Linked DNA regions of Homo sapiens. The protein of the gene in region 1 interacts with the protein of each later gene in a pairwise test. Each region holds a gene or a part of one and is shown in the gene's direction. Other genes may lie near its edges. The genes, in order: CIMIP1, EFHC1, ALKBH7 and CNOT2.

Evidence for each region.
Region 2: the proteins of CIMIP1 (region 1) and EFHC1 interact in binary tests that used the Homo sapiens proteins (3 or more experiments, as listed by UniProt).
Region 3: the proteins of CIMIP1 (region 1) and ALKBH7 interact in binary tests that used the Homo sapiens proteins (3 or more experiments, as listed by UniProt).
Region 4: the proteins of CIMIP1 (region 1) and CNOT2 interact in binary tests that used the Homo sapiens proteins (3 or more experiments, as listed by UniProt).

The regions. Positions count from the first base shown.
Region 1 is NC_000020.11:58,146,248-58,154,426, forward strand, and holds the start of CIMIP1 (ciliary microtubule inner protein 1), read left to right. Parts: upstream 1-4,654; 5' UTR 4,655-4,717; coding exon 4,718-4,785; intron 4,786-7,296; coding exon 7,297-7,378; intron 7,379-8,179.
Region 2 is NC_000006.12:52,450,880-52,458,921, forward strand, and holds part of EFHC1 (EF-hand domain-containing protein 1), read left to right. Parts: intron 1-1,808; coding exon 1,809-1,958; exon of another isoform or gene 1,959-3,215; coding exon 3,216-3,408; intron 3,409-8,042. UniProt on the Homo sapiens protein: Microtubule inner protein (MIP) part of the dynein-decorated doublet microtubules (DMTs) in cilia axoneme, which is required for motile cilia beating.
Region 3 is NC_000019.10:6,368,627-6,375,750, forward strand, and holds ALKBH7 (alpha-ketoglutarate-dependent dioxygenase alkB homolog 7, mitochondrial precursor), read left to right. Parts: upstream 1-4,167; 5' UTR 4,168-4,194; coding exon 4,195-4,398; intron 4,399-5,178; exon of another isoform or gene 5,179-5,265; coding exon of another isoform or gene 5,266-5,391; intron 5,392-5,576; coding exon 5,577-5,750; intron 5,751-5,838; coding exon 5,839-5,963; intron 5,964-6,184; coding exon 6,185-6,347; 3' UTR 6,348-6,624; downstream 6,625-7,124. Other genes in the region: CLPP (ATP-dependent Clp protease proteolytic subunit, mitochondrial), read left to right, coding at 1-84; PSPN (persephin preproprotein), read right to left, coding at 6,668-6,990, 7,076-7,124.
Region 4 is NC_000012.12:70,323,036-70,331,077, forward strand, and holds part of CNOT2 (CCR4-NOT transcription complex subunit 2), read left to right. Parts: intron 1-6,387; coding exon 6,388-6,535; intron 6,536-7,251; coding exon 7,252-7,434; intron 7,435-8,042. UniProt on the Homo sapiens protein: Component of the CCR4-NOT complex which is one of the major cellular mRNA deadenylases and is linked to various cellular processes including bulk mRNA degradation, miRNA-mediated repression, translational repression during translational initiation and general transcription regulation.

The DNA.
Region 1 (8,179 bases):
CAGCTCCAGCCTCCATGCTTTTGTTGTGCAGTTGAGGTAATGATCACCCGTGCTGTGAGAAAGGCATGCAGGCTGGCAGAAACCACTCATGGCACAAAGCATTCTTTGGTTTAAAAAAAAAATCATAAAATAAAAAAGAAAGCTGTTTAAGCTTAAAAACTAAAAAAGAAGCGGTTGGCTCCAGTTGTCGACATGTTTTATAAAGCAACAGCAAAATGAAAAAAATAAAAAATAAACTGTCCCAGAGAACTGAGAGAGGGCCAAAAATATTAATACACGGGAACATGGCGAACCTTCTACAAGCTGTAAATATTTTCCTAGTTTCCCACGTGTAGTCAGCAAGTACGGCAGTTCTTTTTCTCTCTCCACTCTTCCTGTTGGAAATCTATGTGGAATAACAATTTTGCCAGAAAAAAAAAATATATTAGGTTGAAGAAATTGTGTCTGCCAGGGACTCATGAATTGGTTTCATATATCAGAGGGAGGGGGTTTCAACCCCCAGAGCGAGGAAAATGGAGGAGGATATACAAAACAAAGAAAAAGACCACCAGAGCTTAAAACTAAAAATAGAGTTTGATGTATGTGAATGTCTTAACTTGCCGAGCATGGGGCACGGACCAGTGAAGAAACTCACTGAGGGTGGGGTGGCACCGAAGGTTCAAGATGCCCAGATCAATTTGAATCGAGTGATTTCTCAGTAGAAGTACAGTACACCCCCATGCAAACTTGAGTTTAACTGGGCATCCTGTATTTTTATTTGCTGAATCGGGCCATACCGCTGAGTGGGAGAGGCATTTCAGTGGTTGGAAGAGGGGCTCCTGGTGGTTCTGCTAACGAAGGATTGATAACGCACATCCTGATTGGACAGAGCGAGCTTGTGGGTCCGTTCATAGTTGGTTGAAACAAGGAAGGAGTCTCAGGGGAGACCCAGGAGGTGGGCGTCTCAGGGTGTCTAAGTCTGCGTGTCAGCTGTAGTGACATATGGCAGGTTCTATGTGACCCCAACAGTGCTGCCAAAAGGGGAAACTTTGCCTTTTACAGACACCACCTCAGAAAAAGCTGGACCTGCACTGCTTCCTCAACCCTCACGTACTGCTGAGATTCACAGCCATGCTTCAGCCTTGAAAGTCATCTCGGAAGATAAAGCCATCTTCCCTGGTTACGAGAGAGAGGAAGACTCAGAAATGTCTGCTCCCCATCTTCCTCAGGAGTTCTGCCCCTAGGAAGGAAGGAAGAAGAGCTGCCCTCCAAGGCCAGGGTTCCTCACTGAGCCAGTTCTCCCTTCTGCAAAATGGTCACAAAGCCCTCTGCAAGGGGTTGCTGTGACCATCTGTATGAGATCATTCTCACATTGCTACAAAGAAATCCCTGAGACTGGGTAATTTATAAAGAAAAGAGGTTTCATTGGCTCAGTTTTGCAGGCTGTACAAGAAGTATAATGCTGGCATCTGCTTGGCTTCTGGGGAGGCCTCAGGAAGCTGCAATCACAGCAGAAGGCAAAGGGGAAGTAAGTACATCACAGACCAGATCAGGAGCAAGGGCCGGGGGAGGGGCCACACACTTTTAAACAACCAGATCTCGCGGGAACTCACTCGTGATCGCAATGACAATACCCAGGGGAAGGTGCCAAACCATTCATGAGAAATTCACCCCCATGATCCAATTACCTCCTATCAGGCCCCACCTCCAACACTGGGGATTAGAATTCAACATAAGACTTGCAGGGAATACAGATCCAGACCATCTCACCATCAAATCAGAGCATGCAGGGAAGTGCCCCACGGGGGCTGGGGAATGCTGGTGCCCTGAGGGTGACCAGGACAGCCTCAGACTCAGGGCAGAGCCCAGAGGAGCAGTCCCTGGTGAGTGCAGCTCTGGGTCCTCTCTCACCTCTTGAGAAAGGGGAACCCAGCCTTCCCTGGGGACAGCCTCCAGCCACCGGCCATCCACAGCCTCTCCTTCAACACTGTCATCCTCAAGAAGCAAACCCCACTTCCACCCAAAGCCACATTTCCATCTCCCCACGCCTTCCCCCAAATCGTAGTGTCTTAGATTGAGGGAACTGCCTGCACGCTGACAACAAATGTGATAAACCAGGAGTGAAGCCCTCCATTGTTTGGGAGCCCCGCTGTCAGGCTCCCGCAGAGCTCTCTGCCTTTGCTCCTCTCAGCCTCTGCAGATCCCTAAAATTGGGAGGTGTAGTCATGATCCCCTTTTCCAGATGAGGAAATGGGGGCTCAGAGTTGTTAAGCAATATGCACAAGGTCACTGAGATGGCACACAGCAAACCCGAGACCTGAGCTACGTCGGATCCCAAAACCCAGACATTTATCCGGTACTCTACCCATTTCTAGTCCTGGACCCAGGCTACCCCGTGCAGATATTGCCAAGGAGAATGGAGAAGACTAGCAAACTCTTATTCATCCTTGAAAACCCAACTCACTCATCACCTCCTCTGTCCTCTTCTGTCTCATCTGGGGCTGGCTCTGAATCACATATACCCTATGTCATTTCGTATATAAGGCTGCGTTATCATTTAGTTGCATTCACATCTGCTTACCTGCTAGATTGAACTCCTGGGGGACGCATAGTGCCTGCTTCTCCATTTCTGCACCCATTTCATTTCCATGGAACCCTCCAGCTGCACCGGCCCCCTTTGCATTCTTCAAACACCCCATGCTGCTCCTGCCTCGGGAACTATACTCCACACCACCCGCTCTGTGGGAAATTCTTCTGATCTTCCACACCAGATCTGCACCCACATGTCTCCTCCTCAGAGAGACCTGCCCTGACCGCCTGTTTAACACAGCCCCACAGCCCCTGGCCTGTCCCTGCCCCCACTGGCCTCATGCCCTGGTGTGACTCTCTTCCTAGCACGTCATGCCTCTCTCCCTGGCACCAGGTCACACGTGCATTTGTTTCCTGGCTTCATTATCTGTCTTCCCACTCGATGTGCCAGCTCCAGGGAAGCAGAGACCTTGCAGGTCTGACTCCCTCCTGGCACCAGACACATCAAAAGCTCTCAACACACGTCCATAGGATGAAGGAACCCTCGATGTCTGGCACTGTTAATGAATTTAGTCTTAATTAATCATCTTAACAGAAATGTCTCAAAACCTCCCAAGGAGGAAAGCAGAATTTGTTCTTACTACATAATGGATCTTTCTTCCTAGCCATCCACTTATTTCCTCCCAGAATATCTTCCCCTCTGTTGTAAGAATGGAGACCTTGGAGAACAGTCCAGGAAGAAAATCCCAGCTTCCTGCCTAGAGATCTGTCCACCCTCTTGCTAGCCCACTAGCTTGCAGTTGGCTCAGCCGTGGACCTGGGATGTTATATATTCATTAATTAATCAATTCAGCTCCGATGCCAGCCTCTGCTTGCCCACTCACTAATCCAGCTGAGGGACAGTTGGGACCACCCTAATACTGGGCGTGGGCCAGGCATTTCCAACAGCCAAGAAAAGCACCATGTGCTATGAAGGGAAAACACACTAGCTGAGCTCCCCTCTAAACACCACACATAAGTACAAATCTGTTGATAAGGGAAGAGGCCATGGAGATGGACTAGGGAGAGTCTCAGATACCTAACTGGTGGATACACACACTGGCATCCTCCCAGACCAGTGCCCTGGTAATTATCTAGGAGGTGACCTGTAGCTCAACTGAGTCATGCTTCCTCCTCTCTCAGTCCCCCGAGGCAGGCTCTGGACACCTGCTCATCTCATGGCTGCTCAGCCAGAAAAATGTCCTCCTACATCGTGTAGATGATCCCCTTGCTGTTGTCTCAGAGCCATTTTCCAGCTCTGGGTCCACAACAATGGGGGTATGGTAGAAACCTAGGGGGTCAATGAATCAGTCAAAAAACACTGGCTGAGCACCCCAGCGATAGAGTGATTACTGCCTATAGGCAGGGAAAAAGAGTGTGGGGTGGTGGGGTCTGGAGGTAACATTATCCGTGAATTTCATTTAGGGATTGTTACAAAGAGTGGACGCCAACCAAAACGCATATTTTCTCCAAAGACATGTGCAGTAATATTTTAGCAGCACTTTTGTGGTGGCCAAAAACTCAATGCAACGCCCATCAGCAAATACTGTTCAGGAGCAGAAATGGACGCTAGGGCCACTCACAGCAACGGGGATGCTCTCTCAATCATGACACTGGGCAAAGGCAGCCAGGCACAAAGGAGAACATCTGGATGGTTCCACTCACACAAAGTTCAAATCACAGCAAAGCTAATCTTTGCAGAGGGAAGTCAATGAGAGCCAGGGAGGACGGTGACCCTGGGGGCCACTGGGGGAGGCTGGCAATGCTTTGTTTTCTAATCTCCAGGTGACGGTTACAGGCGAGTCCTCTCTTTGACATACTCAATTAAGCTCTGTACACTTGAGCGTCTGTCCACTCGTAGGTGTGCATACTTCCACTGCGGATTTAAACTTTCAAAGAAGTCTAGGGTGTTAGGTCTGGAGGTTTCCCCAAGGTTTTCCACAGATGAGCAAATGGGCCTAGAGGTGGACAAAGGGCCCAGACGTGAGCAAAGGATGGCAGCAAGCCCGGACCCAAGCGACGCGGCGAAAGCACAGCGACCCCACCCTCGCCAGGTGCAGAGCCATTTCCGCCTCCGAGTCCTGCGTTGCCTGGCAACCGGTCTCCCAGGAGACGCGAGACGCTGAGCCCAGGGCCAGAGCTTGCGGGGCGCACAGAGCCCCCAGGCCTCATGGCGCAGAAACCTCTCAGCACCGCGGCGGCTGAACGCATGAACCTTGTGGGTCAGGATGAGATCTGGTAACGCCTGGGATCGGGCAACGCGGTGGGCTCCTGTTCTCACCTGAAGTGTCCACATCTGGGGTCTCAGTTTCCCCACCAAGTCCGGGAAGTGATCGACCACTAAACTCGAGGGGCAGAGGGGCGTGCGCTGAGGATGGTCAGGGGCCTTGAGGAAAGGGGTCAATGTTAGGGACATGAGAGCGACAGGAGGGCCTTTCTCCGTCTCCTTCTCCCTCTCCTGTTGGGCCCACCACGAAGACGTGGGAGATTGGCTTTCAACAATCAGCAGAGATTGGCTTGTTGAAATCCAACTAACATGTTCATGTTTTTTTTTTTTCTTCAAATCTCAGCATCCAACCAGAACGTGTTCATGTTTTTAAGACTGATGATTTTTGTTTGTTTGTTTGTTTGTTTTTTGAGATGGAGTCCTGCTCTATCCTCCAGGCTGGAGTGCAGTGGCGCGATCTCGGCTCACTGCAACCTCTGCCTCCTGGGTTCAAGCAATTCTCTGCCTCAGCTTCCCGAGTAGCTGGGATTACAGGCGCCCACCACCACACCCGGCTAATGTTTTTGTATTTTTAGTAGAGACGGGCTTTCACCATCTTGGCCAGGCAGGTCTTGAATTCCTGACGTCGTGATCCACCCGCCTCGGCCTCCCAAAGTGTTAGGATTGCATGCGTGAGTCACCGCGCCTGGCCAAATTTTTTTTTAAAAAAAGAAAGCAAAAATCCTAATATTTGTTAAATTTGAATGAAGTACATGAAAATCCCTTGATTCTCCTGGGTTTTTAAGTAATATATTTTAACTTTAAAGATACATCCATTTTCTAAAAGATGTATGTCTAGCAGACATTTGTCGTGGATATTTTAATTGGCATGCTATCTGCTACGTATTATTGCATCTCTTTGAAAGTTTAACTCATATGGGAATTTACAGATTTAGATATAAGTAAGTTGTAGTAACAATAAAACATACTTGTTTACCTTCTAAACTTCAGTTATCCTATTTACCCTCTCTATAATTTTTACCATTTCCTTGTAAAACCTCTATTAGTCACTTCATATGTGTCTTTAAATTGTTTTCACTTGATGATTTTATGGAAAACTTCATATCACTCTCATAAATAGAAAACCTTTATCATTTGGCATAAAATACACAACTATTTTTTACTAAATCTTTATCCAAGTGTCCCAATAGGAGATGCTGCCACAGCAGGATCTGTTCCCTCTGTCTGAAATGCCCCTTCCTCTCTTCTTCACCATACAAACTTCTGCTCATCCTTCAAGACCCAAATCTAAGTGACCCCTCCTCTTTGAATAGGGCCCTTGGCTACCTAACACTTAAATTGTAACTGGTCCAAATTGGGTTCAGCCGTTAAGTGTAAACTGCGTGACAAATTACGATGATTTATTTAAAAAAAAAAAAGATTATTTAAGTGACTGTCAGCCGGATGCAGTGGCTCACACCTGTAATCCCAGCACTTTGGGAGGCCGAGGCCAGGAGTTGAAGACCAGCCTGGCCAACATGGTGAAACCCCATCTCTACTAAAAATACAAAATTATCCAGGCATGGTGGCACACACCTGTAATCCCAGCTACTCAGGAGGCTGAGGCAGGAGAATTGCTTGAACCCAGGAGGCGGAGGTTGCAGTGAACCTAGATTGTGCCATCGCACTCCATCCTAGGCAAAAAAAAGGCGAAACTCCATCAAAAAAAAAAAAAAAAAAAAAAAGACTGTCACCTGTTTATTCTTATGTTCTTTTTAATGTAGTTACTAGAACATTTCAAATTGTGTATGCAGCTCATGTTTGTGGCTTATGTTACATCTTGATTGAAATAGACTCTGCCTTAGATGCTCACTGCCCAGGGCAAAGAGTTGACCAGGGTCTCCGAAACTGTGGGGTAGGGATATGCTGATATTGATTCCAAGATAGAAGAAACTAGAAAACTCAAAACGATTGAATGTTTAATTTGATGTTTGCAAAATGTGGCACGTGGGCTCGTCTACTGCAATGCCACTCAGCTCATGGGTAGTTAGATATAAACAATATTAGCATGGAGCAAAAGCAAGGTCGGATTAGGGTGGGGCAAGTGAGGCACTTGCGCTGCAATATTTAGGAAATGCTCCACGTCAAGGTCATGCAGACGCTGTCTCTGCACTTGCAGGAAGCAGGGAGTGAGTGCCTCCTCCACTTTTGCACCTCCTCAAATTTTGAGTCATAAGGGCCTCCAAAATAAGAGATCTGGTACCTAGAAGGCTCCTCAGGCAGAATCGGCCCCCAGACTGGCCCTTACCCGGCATTCCCTCTCAGCCGTAACAGCCAACCAGCATCTCTCTTTCGTTAGCCACGTGTCTCCCTTGCTGGTGGGAGGTGCTCAGCATCAGAGGTTCTCACGCTGTCTGGCTCCTCACTCCGTCCCTGGTGCAGAACCACTGCCCAGTCAATGTTCGTGGAGAATGGAAATGTCCCCCACAGACCCCTTGAACCTTTTTCCGTGTTGCCCAGCACTCAGGAACTTTCTTTTTCAGGAAATACCGTCTGAAGGCTGAATCGGAAGCACGGCAGAACTGGCCCCAGAACTGGGGGTTTTTAACAACCCCTTTTGAGGAGGTAAATATAAATTGTATGAGCCCCAAGGTTACAGAATCAATCATTTCAAAGAATGAATGATTACAAAGTCTATCACTTGCAAGAATAAAACTAAAGAGCATGTTGTAGGCAAAGATCACTAACTCCTAAACCAGAAGGTTCCCGCCTTTCACAGATTCCTGGGCACTGACCACATGCCAGGCATGTTCTAGGTGCTTCGGCAGAACCAGATGATCAAATCTGGACAAGAACCCCGGTGCAGAGACAGGTGTTGTTTTATGCCCATTTACAAATTAGGAAATTGAGCTCCAAGACCTGCAAAGTCACACAACTGATAAGGACCCTACTCAGGTGAGAAGCAGGTGGGTCTGATGCCACAGCCACCTGACCTCAGACTTCCCATCTGTAAAGTGGGATGAGAGTCCTCACCTGCCTAACTGAGCGACTGTGAGGTGCAGATACAAGAAGGCTATGGACACCTCACCTGGCCTGGAGGCCAAGTGACATATGAGGGATTCTTGGGAAAATGCTGTCGGTATTCCCTAAAGATGACAAGTCCAGAAGTCTACAGGGACCAGCTAGGTGACAGAAACAGGAGACAGGGCCAAGCATAATTAATCAGAAGGGGTGGAGACTCAGGCAAAGAGGCCACTGGTCCTGTCCAAAGAGGCAGCCAGCATGAGCCCAGCCAAGTGAAACCATATGGGAAAGCCAACTGCATATTCCCATCACTCAAGAGAGTCCAGAAAGCCAGATGTTTACATGAAATTTTCTGAGTCTAGAAATGAAATGCTTATGTGGGTTCTGGTGGGGTGGTGGCCA
Region 2 (8,042 bases), on another chromosome or scaffold:
ACTCTGCCTCCCAGGCTCAAGTGATTCTCCTGCCTCAGCCTCCCGAGTAGCTGGGATTACAGGTGTGTACCACCATGCCTGGCTAATTTTTGTATTTTTTAGCAGAGACTGGGTTTCACCATGTTGGCCAGGCTGGTCCTAAACTCCTGACCTCAAGTGATCCACCCACCTCTGCCTCCCAAAGTACTGGGATTACAGGCATGAGCCACCATGCCTGGCCTCTGTGCCTTTTAAATGGGGCCTTTAGCCCATTTATAATTAAGATTAGTGTTGATATGTGTAGATTTGATCCTGTCATTGTGTTGTTAGCTGGTTATTATGCTGGTTTGTTTGTGTGGTTGCTTTATAGTGTCACTGGTCTGTGTACTTGTGTGTTTTGTATTGGCTGGTAATGGCCTTTTCTTTCCATATTTAGTGCTCCTTTTAAGATCTCTTGTAAGGCAGGTCTGGTGGTAATGAACTCTGTCAGCATTTGCTTATCAGAAAAGGATCTTATTTCTCCTTTGCTAAGAAGCTTAGTTTGGCTAGATATGAAATTCTTGGTTGAAGATTTTTCTTCTTTAAGAATGTTGAATATAGGCCCCCAATCTCTTCTGGCTTATAGGGTTTCAGCTGAGAAGTCCAGTGTTAGCCTGATGGGGTTCCCTTTGTACGTGACCTGCCCTTTCTCTGTAGCTGCTTTTAACATTCTTTCTTTCATTTTGACCTTGGAAAATCTGATGATTATGTGGCTTGGGGATGATCTCCTTGCATAGAATCTTGCAGGGATTCTTTGTATTTCCTTAATTTGATTGTTGGCCTCTCTAGCGAGGTTGAGGAGGTTTTTGTGGACAATATCCTGAAATATGTTTTCCAAGTTGTTTGCTTTCTCACTGTCCCTTTCAGGAATGTCTGGTGAAATTTGAGCACTTGGTTTGTCTTTCCTATTTTGCTAACACGTTTTCTGGTCTAATATAACCAGTGGGTATGCTTTCTTTTTTTTCTTTTTTGGTGAGGGGAAGGGACTTAATCATATACAGTATTTGTTTTAAGTGAATTAGAAAATTGGGAATATGATTTCAGCCTAACTTGGCCATTGTGCATCTTGCCTCCAGACCTAATAGGAATTACATATTGTTTGAAACCATGGTTAGGTTCCAGATATATGAAAGTAAGCAATCCTAAGACTTACTCTGTTACAGGCACCTAACTAAATTTGATTGATTTAAATTATTTGAAAACAGTTATTTTGCCATTGTGCCTCCCAACTAGCTTAGCAAATACCTAGCAATATAACAATATAAAATACTTCAGGTAACTCTCAATTATTACCTGCATTATGGAGTTGGCTCAGTTGGAGACTTAATACAGCTTACATGCGCTCAAGCAGCAAACTAATGTTTAACTTAAGCAATGGCATAGAAATCATTATTACACTTTTTCTTTCTTTTTTTCTTTATTTGAGGCGGGGTCTTGCTGTGACGCAGGCTGGAGTGCAGTGTCATGATCATGGCTCACTGCAGCCTTGACCTCCTGAGCTCAAGCAGTCTACTCACTTCAGCCTCCTGAGTAGCCTGGACTGCAGGCAAATGCCATCAAACCAGTCTAACTTTTAAATGTTTTTGTAGAAACAGGGTCTCACTATGTTGCTCAGGCTGATTGTGAACTCCTGCGTTTCAGGAGTCCTCCTACCTCAGCCTCCCAAAGTGCTGAGATTGTAGGCCTGAGCCACAGTGCCTGGCCCATACACTTATTTTTATATAATCAGTTTATAACTTACTCTGAAAAGCTCCAAGAAAGATGATCATTGTTAACTTTCAATTATTTAGGTATTTTTAGAAAGCCAAGGAATTGAGTTAAATCCACCAGAGAAGATGGCTCTTGATCCTTACACTGAACTCCGAAAACAGCCTCTTCGTAAGTATGTCACCCCATCAGACTTTGATCAACTCAAGCAATTTCTCACCTTTGACAAACAGGTAAGTGACATAGGAACCACAATAGGCTTACTTATTTCCAAATGTGACCTACATTTATTGGCAAAAGGTTTGGGTAGCTGTATTGGTAACTATTTTGAAACATTACAGCTATAATTGAACTGTTTGGACACAGTACTGTCTTTCTGCTTTCATCAAGGGTTACAGGTACAGGAATGCCTACATTTCATATGGAGATCCAAAGAAGATCGTGGAGTTGCGGAGTTGTTTTGTGAACCTCACCAAACATTTAAATCTCAAAGCAATTCCTGAGCTACATCTGCTTCCCACCTTACGTTTCCAATTGACAATTTCTTTCCCTTAAAATGAGCTAATTTCATAGACTCCTTTGTGAAACCATAAATCGATTATTAGGAAATTTCACAAATATGCATACATGTAGGTTGTAATGTTAAAATGTTTAATTTCACAGAAGCCCCACTACAGATGCTTCCTTGTTAAATGTTATATTAATATTGGAGTCCAGAATGTTCTGAGCATTTTCCAACTCTGTTCCAACCTTCCTAATCCTCTCCCTTGTGAGCTGATGTGTATAAGCAGATTTAAATCCTTCCCTTTCTGTACTAAAGGGAGAAAGAAAAGGAAGAGATCACCCTCAGTGCTTCTTTGCTGCTCCTTTTCTTTAGACATTTAACCCCTTTTAGTTCAGAAAATGTAAACTAGCACTAGCATGGTCTTTTAAGGATTTTGTTCATATCAGTCATATATCTGTTATTATTTTGTATTTAAAGATTGTGTTTATTCCCACGATTTGAAGAAGCCTAGCCAAAAAAAAAAAAAAAAAGATTGTGTTTATATTATTGCTAGAAGATATGTGTTGATGGGACCAAAAAAAGACTGGTTAATAAATAAAAATTTTTTCTACACTAATTATATATAAACCATATTCACATGTACCTTTATTAATATATATATACCACTATGTAAAGAACTTCATTGCTCTTTTAATTTAGCTTCTCTTTCACTGACTAATATTTTGGATCAAAGTGAGCTCTTCTTTTTTGGCACAAACTTATAATCCTATTATTTAATTCTTTCCAGCTGCTGACATATAGTACATAATTTCAGATGTTTTAGTATGTTTGATGAATATTTCTTTTTTTTTCAATTTACCCCATCTGAAATTACTTCATAGTCTTTCCAGCTAGTCTTTCCATCGTTGATACATAATTGCCAAAGTAGCCAAGTTGAACTCCCTACTTTTAGGATTCTTGAGTCACTACTTTGGATTCTTCAAAGGTCCTTCGATTCTATGCAATCTGGGATGATACAGACAGCATGTATGGTGAATGTCGGACCTACATCATTCATTACTATCTTATGGATGATACGGTGGAAATTCGAGAGGTCCACGAACGGAATGATGGGAGAGATCCTTTCCCACTCCTAATGAACCGCCAGCGTGTGCCCAAAGTTTTGGTGGAAAATGCAAGTATGTTTGATTCAGTTTATTCTCTGTTACTTGGGATGTTTTTAGGTTCTTAAAGGAGTTACTTAATCAGTATGCAAAATTCGTTTATACTTGGAAGCCTCTAGCTATTTTTGCTTAGATGCTCAGAAAATGGCTTCCCACAGCTTTCCTCCTTTACTTGCCCCTCGGTCCAGGCGTGCCCCCAAGACAGTCTGGTACCCAGGTCAAGGAAACAAAACCAAAACAACAGTGGGAGATTTATTTAAAGTGCAGCAGAGCAAGGTTTCTGAACTGAAACAATTTAATATTAGATTTTTAATGCATTTTTCAAACAGGCTTGTTTTCATTCAAGGATATGAATGAAAGCTTAGCTTTTCTTTATATGCTTTCCTGACTTTGCTTCTCACTTCAACTACTTCCTAAACAGGAAGTTTCTATGTGGTTTAACTTGAGATTGGAAAAGGCATGTCTGTGACTCATAGAGGTGAGGTCCATTGTGTCAAACCCAGCTCATTCTTTACTGGTTTAAAATTACCTAGCATGGGCTGGGCATGATGGCTCACTCCTGTAATCCCAGCACTTTGGGAGACTGAGGCGGGTGGATTGCTTGAGCCCAAGAGTTTGAGACCAGCCTGGGCAACGTGATGAAACCTCCTCTCTACAAAAAATACAAAAATTAGCCATGCTTGGTGCCGCACACCTGTATTCCCAGCTACTTGGGAGGCTGAGGTGGGAGGATCATCTGAGCCTGGGAGGTCGAGGCTGCGGTGAGCTGTGATTGTGGTGCTGCACTCCAGCCTGGGCAACAGTGAGATCCTATCTCCAGAAAAAGAAAAAAAGTTACCTACCATATTTGAGAGTGGCAGTGCAACAAAATGGCAGCAAATACCTGCTGTTCACTGTTTCCTGGGATGAGTAGGCTTGCTTTAGTTATTGTCTTAGTAGTTTTTACATTTCTCTTAGAATAATGTCATCTTGGTCACATGTAATGACTGATAGCTCTTATGTTTGGGTGGCTGACAGGATTCTGTAAATGTGTTCACTGATTTTTTTTTCTTTTTACTATATTTTTTGGGAATTAGGATATAAGAAATTTCAGGTATTGGGGCTGGGCACGGTGGCTCACACCTGTAATCCCAGCACTTTGGGAGGCCAAGGCAGGTGGATCATGAAGTCAGGAGATCGAGACCATTCTAGCTAACATGGTGAAACCCCATCTCTACTAAAAATACAAAAAATTAGCTGGGCGTGGTGGCGTGCACCTGTAGTCCCAGCTACTCAGGAGGCTGAGGCAGGAGAATTGTTTGAACCCGGGAGGTGGAGGTTGTGGCGAGCCAAGATCGTGCCACTGCACTCCAGCCTGGGTGACAGAGTGAGACTCCATCTCAAAAAAAAAAAGAAAAAGAAATTTCAGGTATTGAGCAAGAAGTTTGTCTACATTAGAGGTTATAAATAAATGTGTAGTCTGAGGCTAAATTCAACGTGTCTGTACATATTGCTTCACTTGCACAGTGCTTTTTTATGAAAAATGCAGTATTATTTGTGGGCAAGGAGTTGGAGGTTTCCATCATTGAGAGAATGGATAAGCAAAAATGTAGTGAAGGTACATTTTGATTAATATACAGTAGTTAGAAGCAGTAAACAAGATGTACACAGAAAGCAAGTGGATGGATCTTAAAAACATAGTGCTGTGTAGGAAAAAATACATGAAATTAGATATATAATGCTATAACACATGCAAAACATAGTACACGTAGGACACATTCAGTCACATAGCTGCATTAGAATGATTGCATGTGAGGAGAGGAGAATGAGATTGGGGAAAAGGATAAAAGGGAGTGAAAATTGTCATCATTTTAGAATTAGGAAAGTTTATGTTATATATTTTTTTAAAAAAATGAAAATACTGCTAATTCAGCTTGTATTCTCAAATAGAAACAACTGGATCTGTGCCCTAGTTCAACATAGTTTGGCTTCTACCTACTATACATATTCTTATAATCAGTTCTCTACAGAACCGTCTTAGAGTTCAATGACAATGGGACTAATATAGTAATTTTGGCCTTTCAGAATGCTTAAACAAGCCTGAAATCCATGCAGTTCGGAGCTAACAAACATTAGATTTACAATAGATAAAGAAAATGGATAGGAATATATTCAGGGTGGCATGAAAAGTCTCACTGAAACTAAATCCCTTTAAATGACAGATTCCAGGTTTGTCTCTGCTTTATCAATGTGACCTATATTGAAAACTTAATATATAATTATCCTCTTCTATAATTTCCCAATTAAAAATTTTTTATCAAAGTTGCATGGAGAGGCAGCCTGGTGGCATATATAGGGTTCTTTTAAAAAGTAGGAAACAGGCTGGTCGCTGTGGCCGAAGCCTATAATCCCGTCACTTTGGGAGGCCAAGGTGGGAGGATCACCTGAAGTCAGGAGTTCGAGACCAGTCTGGCCAACATGGTGAAACCCCCTCTCTACTAAAAAATACAAAAATTACCTGGGCATGGTGGCAGGTGCCTGTAGTCCCAGCTACTTAGGAGGCTGAGGCAGGAGAATTGCTTGAAGCCAGGAGACAGAGGCTGCAGTGAGCGGAGATTGCGCCACTTCACTCCAGCCTGGGCAACAGAGCAAGACTCCATCTCAAAAAAAGAAAAAAGGTATCAGTCATGAGGTACAGAAAAGGCTATGTTCCCATCAGCTACATAATTCCTTTAACTAGAAGGGTAGTGTTAAAAGAATGATGTCTAATTGACTCTCAAAGGCATTTATCCAATGGGTGATTTTTATTAAATTCAATTAAACAAGAGGTAAATAATCTGCTATGGGAACCATTTCACATGCTAAATGCTATGGAGGACAAAATGTAACTCCCATTCCTAGAATCCTATCTTTCAGTCATTTCTAGTGTCATTAAGAAGACAAGGCATATAAAATACACAAAGCTGTTAAGTAATAACATGAGTATACCAGATTATCTGATTATGTAATTAGTTAAGTCATGCAGACCGAGGTCAGAAGGACAAAGGTGTGGGCCTGAAAAACTAAAGAAGTCTTTGTGGAAGAGCTGGGATTAGACTCAGATTTAGAATGGCAGAGAACAAAGAGCTCACTAGAAAGAAGAACAAGAGCAAAAGTTGGGAATTAGGAACAAGTATGGCATGTTTGGGGGCGCCCAAGAGATGGTGGCTAGGCAGAGAGTTTGTATTAGACAGTAATAGGAAATTATGGGAGTAACTTTCAGAAGTCCTCTCAACCAGGGCCTCCTTTTAAGTAGCTAAGATAAATCAAAATTATATATTTATAATGGATGGAGTTAAAATATCAGAAATTCAGAAAGTTATTTCTTCGTCAAGGGCAATTGCATATTACCAATAGGTGGCAGGTAATATCAAAACAGGACATCTTTTGACTTAACAAAAGCTTTCTACTCAGCTCTTGAACCCAAGGAACCAGGTTCTGAAAGTCTAAATATGTTAGTTATCCTTCAGACTGGCTTTCATAGTTTGATCTTGCCCTTGCCTGTTAGATGAATCTTGAACACCCCTTAGACCTTTAGTGTTCCAGAAAGTTGAATGTATTTCCTCACTTTCTGTGCATCTTTGTTGGCTCACTCAGTCATTCGAATAATATTAATCGAACATCCATATAGATGAAGGAAACACCATGCTAGGCAATGGAGATCTGAAACTACTATAAGCCCCATATCTCAAAGACTTTACAATCTGATGAGATCAACATACAGATCAATGAAATAGAACAAATTGTCCAGAAATAGATGCACACATATGAGGTCATTTGATTTTTGACAAAGGTAAAAAAGCAATTTGGTGGAGAAATGATTGTCTTTTTAACAAAAGGTGCTGGAACAATTCAATAGCCTATGCAAAAGTAAATAAATAAATAAACTTCAACCCTTACCTCACCATACATAAAAGTTAACCCCAAATGGATCATAGACCTGGGCGACAGAGTGAGACCCTGTCTCAGAGCAGGGGGAAAAAAAAAGCAAATGTAATGAAAACAAAAATTGACAATTGGGACCTAATTAAACTAAAGAGCTTGTGCATTGCAAAAGAAGCTATCAACAGAGGAAACAGCCTACAGAATGGGAGAAAATATTTGAAACAATGCATTTGACAAATGTCTAATATCCAGAATCTATAAGGAACTTAAATCAACAAGAAAAATAACAAATAACCCCATTGAAAAGTAGGCAAAGGACATGAACAGACACTTCTCAAAAGAAAACATACAAATGGACAACAAACATTTTAAAAATGCCCAACATCACTAATCATCAGAGGGATGCAATCATACCAGTCAGAATGGCTATTATTAAGTCAAAAAATAACAGATGTTGGCAAGCTTGCAGAGAAAAGGGAATGCTTATCACTGTTGGTGGGAATGTGAACTAGTTCAGCCCCTGAGGAAAACAGTTTGGAGATTTCTCCAAAAGTAGAACTACACCAATCCCATTATTGGGTATATACCCAAAAGAAAATAAATTGTTGTATCCAAAAGATACTTGTATTCATGTTTATTGCAGCACTGTTCACAATAGCAAAGACATGGAATCAACCCAGGTGCCCATCACTGGTGGATTGGATAAAGAAAATGTGTTAATGGTACATATACACCATGGAATACTA
Region 3 (7,124 bases), on another chromosome or scaffold:
GACGGTGAGGATGAGCCCACGCTGGTGCAGAAGGAGCCTGTAGAAGCAGCGCCGGCAGCAGAACCTGTCCCAGCTAGCACCTGAGAGCTGGGCCTCCTCTCCAGAATCATGTGGAGGGGCCAGAGGCCTGCCAGACCCCCAGCTGGGCCCTGCTCACCCCTTGTTGCTGGGCTTGGAGGGGCCTCTTGAGGAACTTTTAATTTGCAGGGGTGCCCGCTATGGACGGGGCATTCCAGCTGAGACACTGTGATTTTAAATTAAATCTTTGTGGTCTTTGCTCTGCGTCTGGGACACCCTCCCTTCTGCACCATGACAGCGTGTACACATCTGTGTTTCACAGGCCCCTTCTGCTTTTGTCCTGACCCCAAGAGGCAAGCCATGTCTTCCTTCAACAGATTCTCCTGATCATATCCTATATTCCAGGCAGTGTTCTTTTGTGAAGAAGACACAAGAAACCCTCCTCAAAAGAGCTCCATTCTTGTGGCAGTAGACAGTTACTAAAAAAAACAAAACAGGCCAGGCGCGCTGGCTCACGCCTGTAATCCCAGCACTTTGGGAGCCCGAGGCAGGCGGATCATGAGGTCAGGAGATCGAGAACATCCTGGCTAACATGGTGAAACCCCATTTCTACTAAAAATACAAAAATTAGCCGAGCGTGGTGCACCTGTAATCCCAGCTACTCCGGAGGCTGAGGCAGAAGAATTGCTTGAACTTAGGAGGTGGAGGTTGCAGTGAGCAGGATCACGCCACTGCCCTTTAGCCTGGGCAACAGAGCAAGGCTCTGTCTCAAAAAAAAAAAAAAACAAAAACAGGAAAGGTGGCATGCAAGTGTGAGGGTAAGCGTGTTACAGTTTTTTATGGGGTAATCAGGGAAGCCCTCACTGAGAAGGTGGTGGTTGAGCAAAGCCTCAAAGGAGGTGAGGGGTGGAGCCTGTGTCCAGGCAGAGGGCACAGCCAGTGCAAAGGCCCTGTGACAGGACTGTACCTGGCATGTGAGGACCTATGAGGAGGCCCGTGGCTGAGGGAAGGTGGAAGAGAGGAGATCAAAAAGTAGAGGTGAAAATTAGCCAGGCGTGATGGTGCACTTGAACCCGGGAGGCAGAGGTTGCAGTGAGCCAAGATCACGCCACTGCACTCCAGCCTGGGCAACAAAGCGAGATTCTGTCTCCAAAAAAAAAAAAGTGGAGGTGATTGAGAATAGATCATAAAAGGCCTGACATCTAAAAGGAGGGATGTGAACCATGGAGGGTTTTGAGAAGAGGAAGGAAAATAAGGATGACTATGACTCCTGAGGAGTGCACCATGAGCAGAAACTGGAGAGCAGTTAGGATAGTTGGAGTAATCTAGACGAAAGCTGATGGCAGCCCTGGCCGAGTGATGAGAAAAAGTCAGATTCTAGCTAGGTGGGATGTGACAGAGAGCAGTTTCCAGAAACTCCGAGCTGATGGCCCAAAGCAGGAAGATGGAGACCTGTCGCCTGAGATGGGAAGTGTAGGCAAAGGAACAGGCTTGGGGAGGGATCAGGAGTTGATTTTGGATATATTATACCTGATGTTTTGATATGTCCCTCGACATCAGGGTCAAGAGGTTGAAATAAAAACGTAGGTGTCATCGGCCGGGCGCGGTGGCTCACGCCTGTAATCCCAGCACTCTGGGAGACCGAGGCGGGCGGATCACGAGGTCAGGAGATCAAGACCATCCTGGCTAACAGTGAAACCCCGTGTCTACTAAAAATACAAAAAATTAGCTGGGCGTGGTGGCAGGCGCCTGTAGTCCCAGCTACTCGGGAGGCTGAGGCGGCAGAATGGCGTGAACCTGGGAAGCGGAGCTTGCAGTGAGCGGAGCTTGCAGTGAGCGGAGATCGCGCCACTGCACTCCAGCCTGGGCGACAAAGCGAGACTCTGTCTCAAAAAAAACAAAATGTAGGCGGCATCAGCATGTAGGCTCATTAACAGTCAGACTGAGACCTGGCTATTGGATTCGGCATTGTGGATGTCACTGGTGGCCTTAAATCAGGCCTTTTCTGGTGCTGTGGGAGCCAAAAGCCAGGCTGGAGTGGATCCAGAAAGGATAGGAGGAAACATATCAGACATAGACAAGTCTTTCGAGGAATTACACTATCAAGGGGAGCAGAGGGTGGGGGGGCAGATGTAGCTGGAGGGAGAAATGGGGTCAATATTTTTCAAAATGCAAGCATTCGGGCCGGGGTCGGGGGGGCGCTACGCTCAGCAGTTACAGTGTTGCAGTTTGCATTATGCACATTTAAAATACATACAAAAGTACCCAGAGCTTTGAGAGGCTGAGGGGAGAGGATCACCTGAGCCCAAGAGTTCCAGGCTGCAGTGAGCTATGATCGTGCCCTTGCACTCCAGCCTGGGCAATAGAGGGAGAAAATAATAAAATAAAGGCCGGGCATGGTGGCTCAGGCCTATAATCCCAGCACTTTGGGAGGCCGAGGCAGACGGGTCACCTGAGATCAGGAGTTTGAGATCAGCCTGGCCAATGTGGTGAAACCCTGTCTCTACTAAAAATACAAAAAATTAGCCGGGCGTGGTGGCAGGCGCCTGTAGTCCCAGCTACTCGGGAGGCTGAGGCAGGAGAATGGTGTGAACCCGGGAGGCAGAGCTTGCAGTGAGCCAAGATCCCGCCACTGCACTTCAGCCTGGGTGACAGAGCGAGACTGTGTGTCAAAAAAAAAAAAACCCAAAAACCAAAAAAATAAAAAACAAAAATTAGTTGGGCGTGGTGGCAGCTTCCCGTAATCCCAGCTACTCGGGAGGCTGAGGCAGGAGAATCGCTTGAACCCGGAAGGCAGAGGTTGCAGTGAGCCAAGACCGCACCATTGCACTCCAGCCTGAGTGACAAGAGCGAAATTCGGTCTCAAAAACAAACAAAACAAAAAAGCTGGGCATGATGGTTCGTTGCCTGTAATCCCAGCTACTCGGGAGGCTGAGGCATGAGAATCACTTAAACCCCAGAGGCAGCGGTTGCAAATCTTCAGGGCCTGAGATCGTGCCACTGCGCTCCAGGTTGGGCGACAGAGTGAGACTCTGTCTCAAAAATAAACAAATAAAAATAAATATAAACAAAAGTAGAGAAAACAGGGTAATGAGACCCCACGTACTTATCACACCAATTCAACAATTAATTCACGGTCAAAGATGATTCTTCCCTACCCGCCCCCTCCCTGCCCCCACAGCCTGGATTTATGTGGAAGCAAATCCCAGAGATCTTTTTTCTGTAAATATTTTTTTTTCAGTTTGCGTTTGTAAAAAACGATGACTCTTTTTTTTTTTTTTGAGACAATGTTTTGCTGTGTCGCCCAGGCTGGAGTGCAGTGGCGGGATCTCTGTTCACTGCAACCTCCGCCTCCTGGGTTCAAGCAATTCTCCTGCCTCAGCCTCCTGAGTCGCTGGGATTACAGGCACGCGCGCCACCAAGCTCGGCTCATTTTTTGTATTTTCAGTAGAGACGGGTTTTCACCATGCTGGCCAGGCTGGTCTCGAACTCCTGACCTCAGGTGATCCACCCGCCTCGGCCTCCCGAAGTGCTGGGATTACAGGCGTGAGCCACCACGCCCGGCCGAGGAATCAAAAAGACAACCATAATGCCATTTTCAAACCTAAAGTAATAGTGATACGGAGACGGGGAAATGAATGATACCTCGCTCTGACCTTTGACCATAAGCCCTAACTCTGGATAGCTGGCCCCACCACACACATAATCGTGGCCTTGACGTCAGTCCCCTGACCCCGGACCCTTATCTCGGCCTGACTGTACTCTGCCCTTAACCTCTAGCCCTAGTCGACTCCATAACCGTGGCCTTGGCCCCAGTCCCCCTGACTTCCGGACTTCAGACCAGATACTGCCCATATCCCCTTATGAAGTCTTGGCCAGGCAACCCCTAGGGTGTACGTTTTCTAATGATTAAAGAGGCGGTGCTAAGCTGCAGACGGACTTGCGACTCAGCCACTGGTGTAAGTCAGGCGGGAGGTGGCGCCCAATAAGCTCAAGAGAGGAGGCGGGTTCTGGAAAAAGGCCAATAGCCTGTGAAGGCGAGTCTAGCAGCAACCAATAGCTATGAGCGAGAGGCGGGACTCTGAGGGAAGTCAATCGCTGCCGCAGGTACCGCCAATGGCTTTTGGCGGGGGCGTTCCCCAACCCTGCCCTCTCTCATGACCCCGCTCCGGGATTATGGCCGGGACTGGGCTGCTGGCGCTGCGGACGCTGCCAGGGCCCAGCTGGGTGCGAGGCTCGGGCCCTTCCGTGCTGAGCCGCCTGCAGGACGCGGCCGTGGTGCGGCCTGGCTTCCTGAGCACGGCAGAGGAGGAGACGCTGAGCCGAGAACTGGAGCCCGAGCTGCGCCGCCGCCGCTACGAATACGATCACTGGGACGCGGTGAGACCGGCAGCGCCGGGGGCGAGGGACGGGGGCTCGTCGGGGGCGCGGCCTGGGGACGTGGAGCATCAGATGGGGCGGGGACACGCTGGGGGCGGTACCTAGAGCGGGGATTTGGAGCGGGGACAGAGGAGACGAGCGCCGGGACCGGGCAGGGCCACACTGGGGGCGGTTACAGTACCGTTTAGCGTGGGGGCGGGGCTACGGTGCTGGGGTTGTGGGGCCAGGGGGGTCGGGCGCAGGGATGGGGCGGGGCCACGCTGGGGCGGGGACAAAGGAGACAGCGCAGGGATGGGGCGGGGGCACTCTGGGGGCGGGACAGGAGGCGAGCGTAGGGACGGGGCGTGGCCACGCTGGGGGCGGGGACAGTGGGGACCAGTGCTGGGATGGGGCGTGGCCACGCTTGGGGGCGGTTACAGCGCAGTCGAGCGTGGGGGTGGGGCCAGGGAGTCGGGTGTAGGGTTGGGGTGCGATTACGCTGCTAGCAGTTACAGTGCAGAAGAACGTGGCGGCTGGGATTGGGGCGTGGTCAGGTCGTCGAGCGCATGGATGGGGCGGGGCCAAGCTTGGGGCGGGGTCCGTGGAGTCAAGCGCCGGGATGGGTTGGGGCCATGCTGTGGGGGGGACGGGGAAGTCGAGGTTTAGAGAGGGCAGAACCACGCTGGGGGCGGAGATAGGGGAGACACATGCTGGGATGGGGCAGGGCCTTTTTGGGGTCGGTAGCTATTGCAGGGATTTGGGAGCTGGGCTATGGTGGGGGCTGGGCTGAAACTCTGGCTGTGGGAGGGGCGGGACCTGGGGGATGAGGACCTTGGGGTCAGGGAGAGCACTTTTGCGACCTGGGACCAAGGTTAGGGGCGGAAACGGATGTGGAGCCAGATGATGTTGAGAGACAGAGACAGGACACTTGGGTGGGGTCAAGTTGTAGGGAGATTCAGCCAATTGAATGCTGGGGCCGGGCCAGCATTGGGGACCTGGAATTGTAGCCTCAGGGTGAGTACTAAGGACTGAGGTCACACCTAGGTAGGGCCATAGTTGAGGGGCTAGGGGAGTTTGAGTTGAGGGCAGGGTCAAGAGTCACATAGGGAAACCAGCCCCTTGCCGTTTTCTGCCCCTCCTTGCCTCAGTTTCCTTGTTCCCTCTGGGAGCTCCCAGGCTTAACCGAGCTCTCTGTGCAGGCCATCCACGGCTTCCGAGAGACAGAGAAGTCGCGCTGGTCAGAAGCCAGCCGGGCCATCCTGCAGCGCGTGCAGGCGGCCGCCTTTGGCCCCGGCCAGACCCTGCTCTCCTCCGTGCACGTGCTGGACCTGGAAGCCCGCGGCTACATCAAGCCCCACGTGGACAGCATCAAGGTGGGCAGAGGACGGTGCCTTGGCACTCCCAGCCAGGGGGTAGGCAGGCCCGGTTAGATCCTGACCCATCCCCACGCCTCTTTTGCAGTTCTGCGGGGCCACCATCGCCGGCCTGTCTCTCCTGTCTCCCAGCGTTATGCGGCTGGTGCACACCCAGGAGCCGGGGGAGTGGCTGGAACTCTTGCTGGAGCCGGGCTCCCTCTACATCCTTAGGTACCTCCATCCAGGCAGCACCCACCCCTCCAAGAATGTGCCATCCGCCCACCCTGTGCCCTGGGTACTTTCCCTCAATCCAGCCCTCCCCGAAGACGCCTTTACCCCAGGGTCTGTGTGGGAGGCAGCAGGGGGCTGGAATCCAGGAGGCTGGAATCCAGGTCTGCCTGGAGCAGGGGCTGCCCTCCTTGCACCCAGTCACAGCCTGTTTCTTCCTGCAGGGGCTCAGCCCGTTATGACTTCTCCCATGAGATCCTTCGGGATGAAGAGTCCTTCTTTGGGGAACGCCGGATTCCCCGGGGCCGGCGCATCTCCGTGATCTGCCGCTCCCTCCCTGAGGGCATGGGGCCAGGGGAGTCTGGACAGCCGCCCCCAGCCTGCTGACCCCCAGCTTTCTACAGACACCAGATTTGTGAATAAAGTTGGGGAATGGACAGCCTAACTGGGACATTGCAGTGGCTGCTTGCTGGGGCCGGGATTTGCAGGGGAACCCAGGATGGCACTGGCCCATAGGGAGCTCCAGGTGTGGCTGGCTGGACACATGGTCAAAGTCACAAGGCCGGGAGAGTGGTGTCCTTTATTGCACTCACTGCTGGTCGCCCCAGCCCACTCCCCTCCTCGTTGTCTCTGCATCCAGGTCTCCAATAAATAAGTCAGCCGAGCTCCCCCAGCACTGCAGCTTCTGGGTGCCAGGCCGGGCACCCTCAGCCACCACAGCCGCAGGCAGCCGCCGAGAGCTGGGGCAGCCGCTGCCAGCGGTGGCGGTCATCGAGGAAGGCCACGTCGGTGTAGCGAGTGGGCCGGCAGCAGGGCCCGCCGTGGGCTCGGCCCTGGCCCTGCAGCCGGGCCAGCGCCAGGCCATGCTGGGTGCGGGCACCACGGGGGCAGCTGCCGGCGCAGTAGCGGAAGATGACCTTCTCCTCTGAGGCGTAGCCCAGGCCTAGCTCTGCCACGGACAGGGTCAGGCTCCACAGCTGGCATGGACCAGACAGGGCTCGGCGCAGGCGGGCAAGGGGGCGGTGGGTGCCTGTGGGAGGGAAGGGCGCTGACAGTGAGCAGGGTCAGGGCTGGGGAAAGTTGGGAAGTCACAGAGGGTCCCTGGAAGTCCTTACCCAGCCAGGTCCCTCCAGCCTTTGCCACCTGTTCAGACGAGAACTCTCC
Region 4 (8,042 bases), on another chromosome or scaffold:
TTTTAGGGAGCAAATTCTGTCTATACCATTCTCCTTGAGGAGAACCAAAAAAAAAGGGAAGCTATAGTGGTATGGAAAAACTTCAAAAAGCAGGTAGGAATTAAAGTTGACAAATACTTATGGGTCCCTACCATACATGTTGTGCCATTCTAGATACTGCAGATGTGTGGTAGAAGAGATCATCCTCATTTATGCCATCTCTGCATAGTGTACCTACTGCTATGGTGTTGCTGCATTATTTATTGCATGTCCTCATTGCCTTTGTATCCTCTGTACCTCGCATATGACAAGCACTCAGTAAATCTTGAATGCATGATGAACAAGAAGCAGTCTCATATAATCTAGTAGGATAAGTACACAAATGATTTTACTATGTAGTAGAATAAGAAGTTCGAGGTTATTTGGATGTTTCAGATGAGATAGGGCACATTCAGGATGGTACGGCTGTAGACTATTTGGATATTTCAAAGACAGGAGTAATCAGGTATCTTGGAAAATGATTAGGAAAAGAATTTACTGATGAGATTATATTTGAGATTAGCATTGAACAGACTGTGAGTAAAGTTGTTTTAGCAGTGGGAATAACATCCACAGCATGGGATAGATTTAGGAATGGCCTACTTTATCAAGACAGGAGACACCTGTTAGGCTGTTATATTGATTTCAGCAAGAAGTACAGTCTTCACATTTCTGAGAGATTTATTTCAAGATCATTGCTACTTTTAAAGTTCAAGAACACAGCTATAGAATAACATTTTCCACCATAAAACATCCTTTTTGTGTGTGTGAAAACCATCACTTGATTAGACTATCTTATTTTATCTTCACTTTTGGTACCACCTGTTGGCTTTCTTTTCATAAGTATGACACACGCACACACACACACACAGAGCTAATATTTATTGAATATTATCTACTGTGTATCAGATGCGATTTTAAGTATTTATGTGAATTAACTCATTTAACCTTCACAGCAGCTCCACAAGAGTTTAAGGAATTTGTTCAAGGTTACACAGATTGTAAGTAGTAGAACCAGGATTATATTACTTTGTAAGAGTAACTATGTGAACATGAGCTGAAAACATCAGTTTCTTTGATACCTGAATGCCATGACCCTAGAAAGCCATTTGTACATAGTAGAAACTACCAGTGTTAAATCCACAGGTGCCAAGAATCTGTTGAATTAAGACATTGTGATAGAATGTATTCATTCTAATAATTATGTATTTATTGGGTGCCTACAATGAATGAGGTATTATTTCAAGATATAGATAAGAATATAGCAAATAACAAATGTCCTGTTTTTATGGAGAGAGAGAGAGAGAATGTTAGTAATACTGCAGTAGTCCAGGCAAAAAAAAATGGGATGACTTGGACTAGTGGAGGTGTTGAGAAGTGATCAGATTTGGTACATTTTGTAGATAGAGCTAACAGGACTTGATGATGTAGGAGTGAAAGAAAGGGATCAAGAATGATTTCTAAGGTTTCCGACCTGCAAACCTTTGTGAATGAGTGCCACTAATCTAGAGCAGAAATTTAGGTTGAGGAAGTGTAGAGTGTACTTGGGAGATCCACACAGCTATTCCACAGGTAAAGATTCTGTGGCACTCCTCTAAAGATCCAGCCAGATGTTGAGACTCTCAGCTGATTCGAGCACAGCAGCCACTTCTCATAGTTGTGGAAGCCACTTAGCTCCATCCATGTTTCTTGTCTTATACATTCTTAGCACCTAGAAGGCAAAGCCTGTTCCTCCGCCAGGTGTATAACTTGTCCTCATTTTCATATATCTCGTCATTCTCTCAGACTGAACTATTGTAACATTTATACCCACCTGACTCCCCACCACTGCCACCACCAAACACCTGGCTGAGTCTCATATGTTATTTAATTCATATACTATCTTCTGTCTCCTCCAGGAAAATTTTTCTGCTTCCAGACTCACTCTATTCCCAAGTCTGAGTTAGTGTGGTCCCTCCTACAAGCAGTCAAGCACGCTATGTCTACTGCATGTAAACACCTTGGTCATAGCACTTATTTATTTTTAAGTAGTCTTTTATATCTCTAGAACAAGAGAAGGGAAAGTATTCTTGCTGAGGAGTTAGATATGAGTAGTAAAGGACAGATTTGAGGAAAGGAATAGAGAAAGAAGAAAGAAGATTATAAATCAGATATGTAGTGTGTAAACAGAGTAAAATGCTTGTTAAGGTTAGAAAACATCTTTGGGTCTTGACAGAATTTTAATACTCTAGAACAGTGGTTCTCAACCCTGACTGCACCCATGGAAACACCTGGGGAATTTTTAAAATTCCACTGCCATGATTGCCCAAAATCACAATTGCTGGAGAGGAGACCTAGACATTAAAGTTCCCTGGATGATGCAAACATTATTAACTACCATTAAAAAATGGAAAATGATATTGGTTGCAAAAAAGGCATTGAAATAGGAGTCAAGAAATTGGATCATTGTCTTTAATGCCTCATTACTTGTGATCTTGAGCAAGTCACTTAATGCCTAGTGTGAATTCTTTATCTGTAACCTACTTGGATAATCTCTGGAGTCTTTTCTATTCTAAAATACTTTGAATTTAATGAAGAAAATTGCATAAGGAAATAATTTTACAGGAATCATTAACCAGCTAAGTGCAAGACAGGTTGAAGGTAAGAAGCCATTGAGATAAAGCACCATTTATGTTGTCCTTTTTAGTATGGGCATGCCAGTGAGTTCCTAGAGGAAGCTGGCTGCTTTGCAAATGGAAAAGGGGACACTTTAAGGCATCAGTTAAGGACTACTCTCTCCTGCCCCTATAAAGATTTTAGGGGACTTTATTTAAGTATGAATATTCAGGGATTTGGTTGCTATGATTTTATTTTTTCATGTAACTTAATATTTTTTATTTCTAGCAAAAAATTGAATAAAGAATGACGTATTTTGCCATAAGTGTTTAAGTGATGTGCTGTTAATCAGTTTGTGCAGTGGAAATAATTAATGGAATAATTTCTTAGATCATATTCTTTAAGGGTTTCTGAAAAATGATCAATAAGGAATTTGACTAACACCCTGCCAGATAAGAGGTAGGAATCTATTTAGAATGTGTTCGTATAGTCCTCCTAATATTGTGTTGTTATTATCAATTGTTAGATTGAAAGAAAAATTTGACTCAAAATTATAACCTTTTAAACTTTTTTTAAAATTTGTTTTTATTCTTTGTAAAAAGGTGATAACCTTTTTTATAAGATGATTATAAGAAGGAATTGAGAGGAAGTAGTATAGTGCTTTGTTGATAAGTGCCCAATAAATTTTAATTTTACTGTCCTTCCAGTCACCTGCTCATATACAAGCTCATTTATACATATTTATATTTTTGCCTGTTTTAGTTTTTTTATGCCAAGAAAAACTCCTTGAGTTCTTCCCATTTTTCTTTTTTTTTCTTTTTTTCAGCTGTATGTCCTATTCTTGGCATAATATTTTAGAGATGATTTTTCTGTGATTGTTTCTAATTATACTAGTGAGAGATTAGATTTTTTTCCCCTTGACCCTATTCAGTTGTGTTAGTTTGACTCAAGCAACTCAAAGTTAATGACTTAGTATATTTAGTTTCCAAAAAACAAATCTTTATATATACCTTTCCAGTGCCATTCTTTATGTTTTAAAGAAATTCAGTTTTTAAAATAAATTTAAAGTAACAATTATTAAGTATTCAGGGGTTGATGATCCAATTTGAAGTGATATATTCTTTTTTGATCTTTTTATACTACTTCAACAAAATTAAACTTAGACTTTTTGAATTTATTAGCTGTTTTTGTGAAGATTAATTTTAGAAAGCTAAAATTAAACACTGAAAGTAAGTTACTTTATTCCATACGGTCTCTGTCCAGTTTTAGCACTAAAATCAGTTCAAGGATGCCAATCCCTAATTGGCCAAATAGCCTTACCATTCTTGTTTTCTTCTCCAAATTTGTTTTTTTGCTGGTCAGATAACTTCCAATTTCTAAAATATTCCTGAAATGATAAATTTTTATGATACAGCATAGAATAATATGTATGTGGAGACTTGAAGGAGTCAAATCTCAATGAGCCTTTTGTAGGGCTTAACGATTGTTAAAAGGGGGCCAAAAGGGCACTAATTTTTGGAAAGTGTATGTTTGTTTATGGTGGTGAATGTGTAGAGAGGGTGAAAAGTAAAGGAAAAGTAGAACAAGAAGAAAGAAAACTGATAGGTATGACGATGAGAGAGAAAGAAAATGGAAGAGAGCAAGACGTGGAGATTTAGAAAAAAGGTTGAGGGAAACATATTCAAAAGGGAAAAAGAAAGCAGGGGGAAAATACATTAGAGGTGTTGAAATTAGTAGGCACTCACAGAGGTGCTAATCGAGAGTTCTGTTGGGCTCCTGTCATGCTGCTATTAAAGAGCATTAGCAGCTAAGAGATCTAAATTCTAGTCCTAGTTCTTTGTGTTGCCGTGGAGAAGTCAGTTAACTTACATGAGGCTCAGGTTCCTTACCTGTGTGTAAAATGGGAACATTGAACTAGGTGATCTTTAAGATCCCTTCCGGCTCTAAAATTGTTTGACATTATCTTGGTGGTCAGTAACTGTGAGAAACACATTCCTGAGGAAAATTTGCAGCTATAGTTGACTTCAGGACAGCATGTTTAGGGAGTAGAATGTAAGCTCCCTGAGGGTAGGGGCCTTTTCTGTTGTGTTCACTGCCATATCCCCAGCAGCTAGCACAATGCGTGTTACATAGTAGGCATTCATTAAATGTTTGTTGAATGAATGATGTGAAAAGTATGTTGATGGTTTGTTAGGAGCACACCTAGAAAGCCTCAAAGAAAAATGGTGTGCTTTAGGGAGGGAAAAGACAGATTTCTTCTGAAGAAATCTTAAGCAAGCTGATTTTTAATCCTTATTCTTCCTTATTTTGTCCCAGATTCAAAGAAAGTGGCTTCAGCTAGTGACATTCTCATAGTCACAAAACTTACGGTGACTGTAGACATACATAAAAGTGTACATGTAATCTAGGCCAGTTCCCTTAAAGTATCTTACAGAAAGGCAGGACCAAGCTTAGGTCTCCATGGAATCTGAGTGAAAAGTATATACATGGAATATATTAGTTATATTGAATTAGATTGATTGGATTAAAATTCATTCAGTTGAGAGGCACAGTTAGTCTACAAGCTGAGATACAGGCTGCCAAATTTAAGATAACGATCAGTGAGATACTCGCTAACCACTCCTATCCCTAGGTTAGAAGGTGAAACATTATTATGCCAAAGGATAAAATCACCTTAAATCCCTAGCACTGAAGTCATCTACTTACTGATTAGTTCTCACTCTATCTTATCACTTTTATTTAATCTCCAGTTCAGAATAAGTTTGGTTGATGAAGCAGACTAGAAGTAGAAAGCACTAAAAAGTGTGGGTCAGGAAGATGGAGGAAAGGGAGAGGAATTCGTAGACAGATATAACAGTGTAAGTGATAGCTGTACTTCTTGACTTTGAAGCATAAAAGGGAAAAAAATAAACGTATGCTGTCTATGATAATTATCCTGGATTATTAAAAAATTTATAATTCCTATGATCTGAATAAAAACTCAGGAAATATACATTTCTAAAAAAAGTTTATCCACAGTGGTTTTGTTTGTTTGTTTCGTATGAGAATGATAAAACTCTTAGCAGTCTTTAAAAAAAAAAAAACCTATTAGAATGTATAGTCCATCCCCACACCTGGCTCCAGGGGTACTAGATAAATACAGGGGCATTATATTTTGACGTCTTTTTAAATGTTTTAAAATTTTGTCTTTTATAGCTATATCAGTTTGAGTTTTTTTTAACAGTTGCTGGCATTTTATGTTGGGTTTGTAAAAACAGTAATGTTGAGAAATATGTATAAATAGTAAATTGGCTTTTTCTAAAATATAATTTTAAAGGATCACATAAAATTAAAGCTACTTCAGCAAAGCGGGGTTAAATGTCTTTCTGTATACATTAGTTGTGAATAAAGACATAAAAACACATTACTGCAAAATTTCATAATGGCCTCTTTGTATATACACATGTACATATATGCAAATAGGCCTTTAAGAAATTTTAGAGCAATATCCATTCATAATATTGTAACTTGTTAGTCATTTACATACTTCATAATGAAATTGAAATATGAAAAATAGGAATATGAAAGAAATATCCATTCATAATATTAAATTTCAGACTGGAACATATTTTTTGTTAAAATCAGAGTTTATTTGGAGTGAATCGAATATATCCATTTAAAATTTGCGTACTATGTTAGGTCATTAAAAGTGTCTTAAATCGCCAACTCCAGAAGATGGATAACAATTTCATTCCTGATGGCAATGAATTTCCTTCTTCTGAATTTTTTTATTAGGTGCACTAGGCCTTCCAATGAGGGGGATGAGCAACAATACCCCTCAGTTAAATCGCAGCTTATCACAAGGCACTCAGTTACCGAGCCACGTCACGCCAACAACAGGGGTACCAACAATGTCACTTCACACGCCTCCATCTCCAAGCAGGTATTTATTGATGGACCAGAATATTTTTCAAAATGTATCTTGGTAGAGTAAACAAACTTTTAGTTTTTTAATAAGGTAATTAATTACTTGATTTTCTGGTTCAGTGCCTTTCACTGAGGAAGAAAATACCTATGCTCTTTTTATTTCAGTGCAAATTGTTAAGTACAGTACAAGTGGTTTTTATACTGCAGCTCGCATACTGGTTGTCAGTGGGGTGGATATCAAGGGTTAATCATTTCCTGGGGAGCTTTTTCAAAAGGCACCTGTCTTCCTCAAAGGAATATGTGCAATTTAAAATTCCTCCCCAGATGATTGTGATCATTGCTCCCTCGCCACACATCCATTGCTCTAATGAGCATAAAGTAAAACAGATGACATAGACTATACATTTAGTATGCAGAGGATAGAACGATATGCCATTGAAATGAAATTATTCTAAATATGTGTGTGAAATACATTTATATTTTATGTCACAGTCACACCAGTAGTTCTCTCATCTTAGATACCACCTTTTATCAGTTGCACTATAATTTGCCCTTTATTGTTTGTTTACTTTTTCTTTTCAAAGAGCTAGAATGACTAAAGAATTAATAAAAATTAGAACTGCAATTTGAAAGTATATTTGAGATTCTAGGGTTGGACCAATTGATTATTTAAAGAGAATTTTAATGAGTGATTGTAGAGAGCTTATTTAGTATAATGGACTTCTTTTTCAGGGGTATTTTGCCTATGAATCCTAGGAATATGATGAACCACTCCCAGGTTGGTCAGGGCATTGGAATTCCTAGCAGGACAAATAGCATGAGCAGTTCAGGGTTAGGTAGCCCCAACAGAAGCTCGCCAAGCATAATATGTATGCCAAAGCAGCAGCCTTCTCGACAGCCTTTTACTGTGAACAGGTAAGATGTTTATTGATACTGTGTATAATTGTCTTTCTGGGTATACTCAGATTTGCCTTTTCATATTTTCACTTTGTTCTTGAGGTGTGGCTTCTCTCTAATAAGTGTGTTTCATCATGCATTTATGTCCAAAGATTCTGTTACCCATCACAAAACGATACGTTTTCTTGAAAATCAGGTTGATTTTGGAAAGCACATTAAAACATTTTGTTGTTGTGGTTGTTAGAAAAGGATTGTTCTTGGATTCGCCACCAGGCAAATTTTGGTTGATATGTCCTCTCTTTATAAAATAAGTTGATTACCTGTGTGGTAAGAGTTCTAGGTTTATGAATAGAACTGGAGACATGTTTGACTATTACTACTTTGCTTTAGTTATACTTTGAGTACCTTCTCAAGTAAGATTTGGTTTTGTGCATTGGAGACTTACCAACAAAAGACTTTTTAAGATCACATCTATAGTATTTGAAAACCGTATCATGTTTAGGGATTCAAAACAAAAAAACGGGTTTTTGTACTTTTTCACTTCTCTTTGTACTGTCTGTTGCATATACTTTGCGAATAAGAGGAGTTACTCATTTTGTTAGGATTTTCAAGCTGTTTGGGTAATT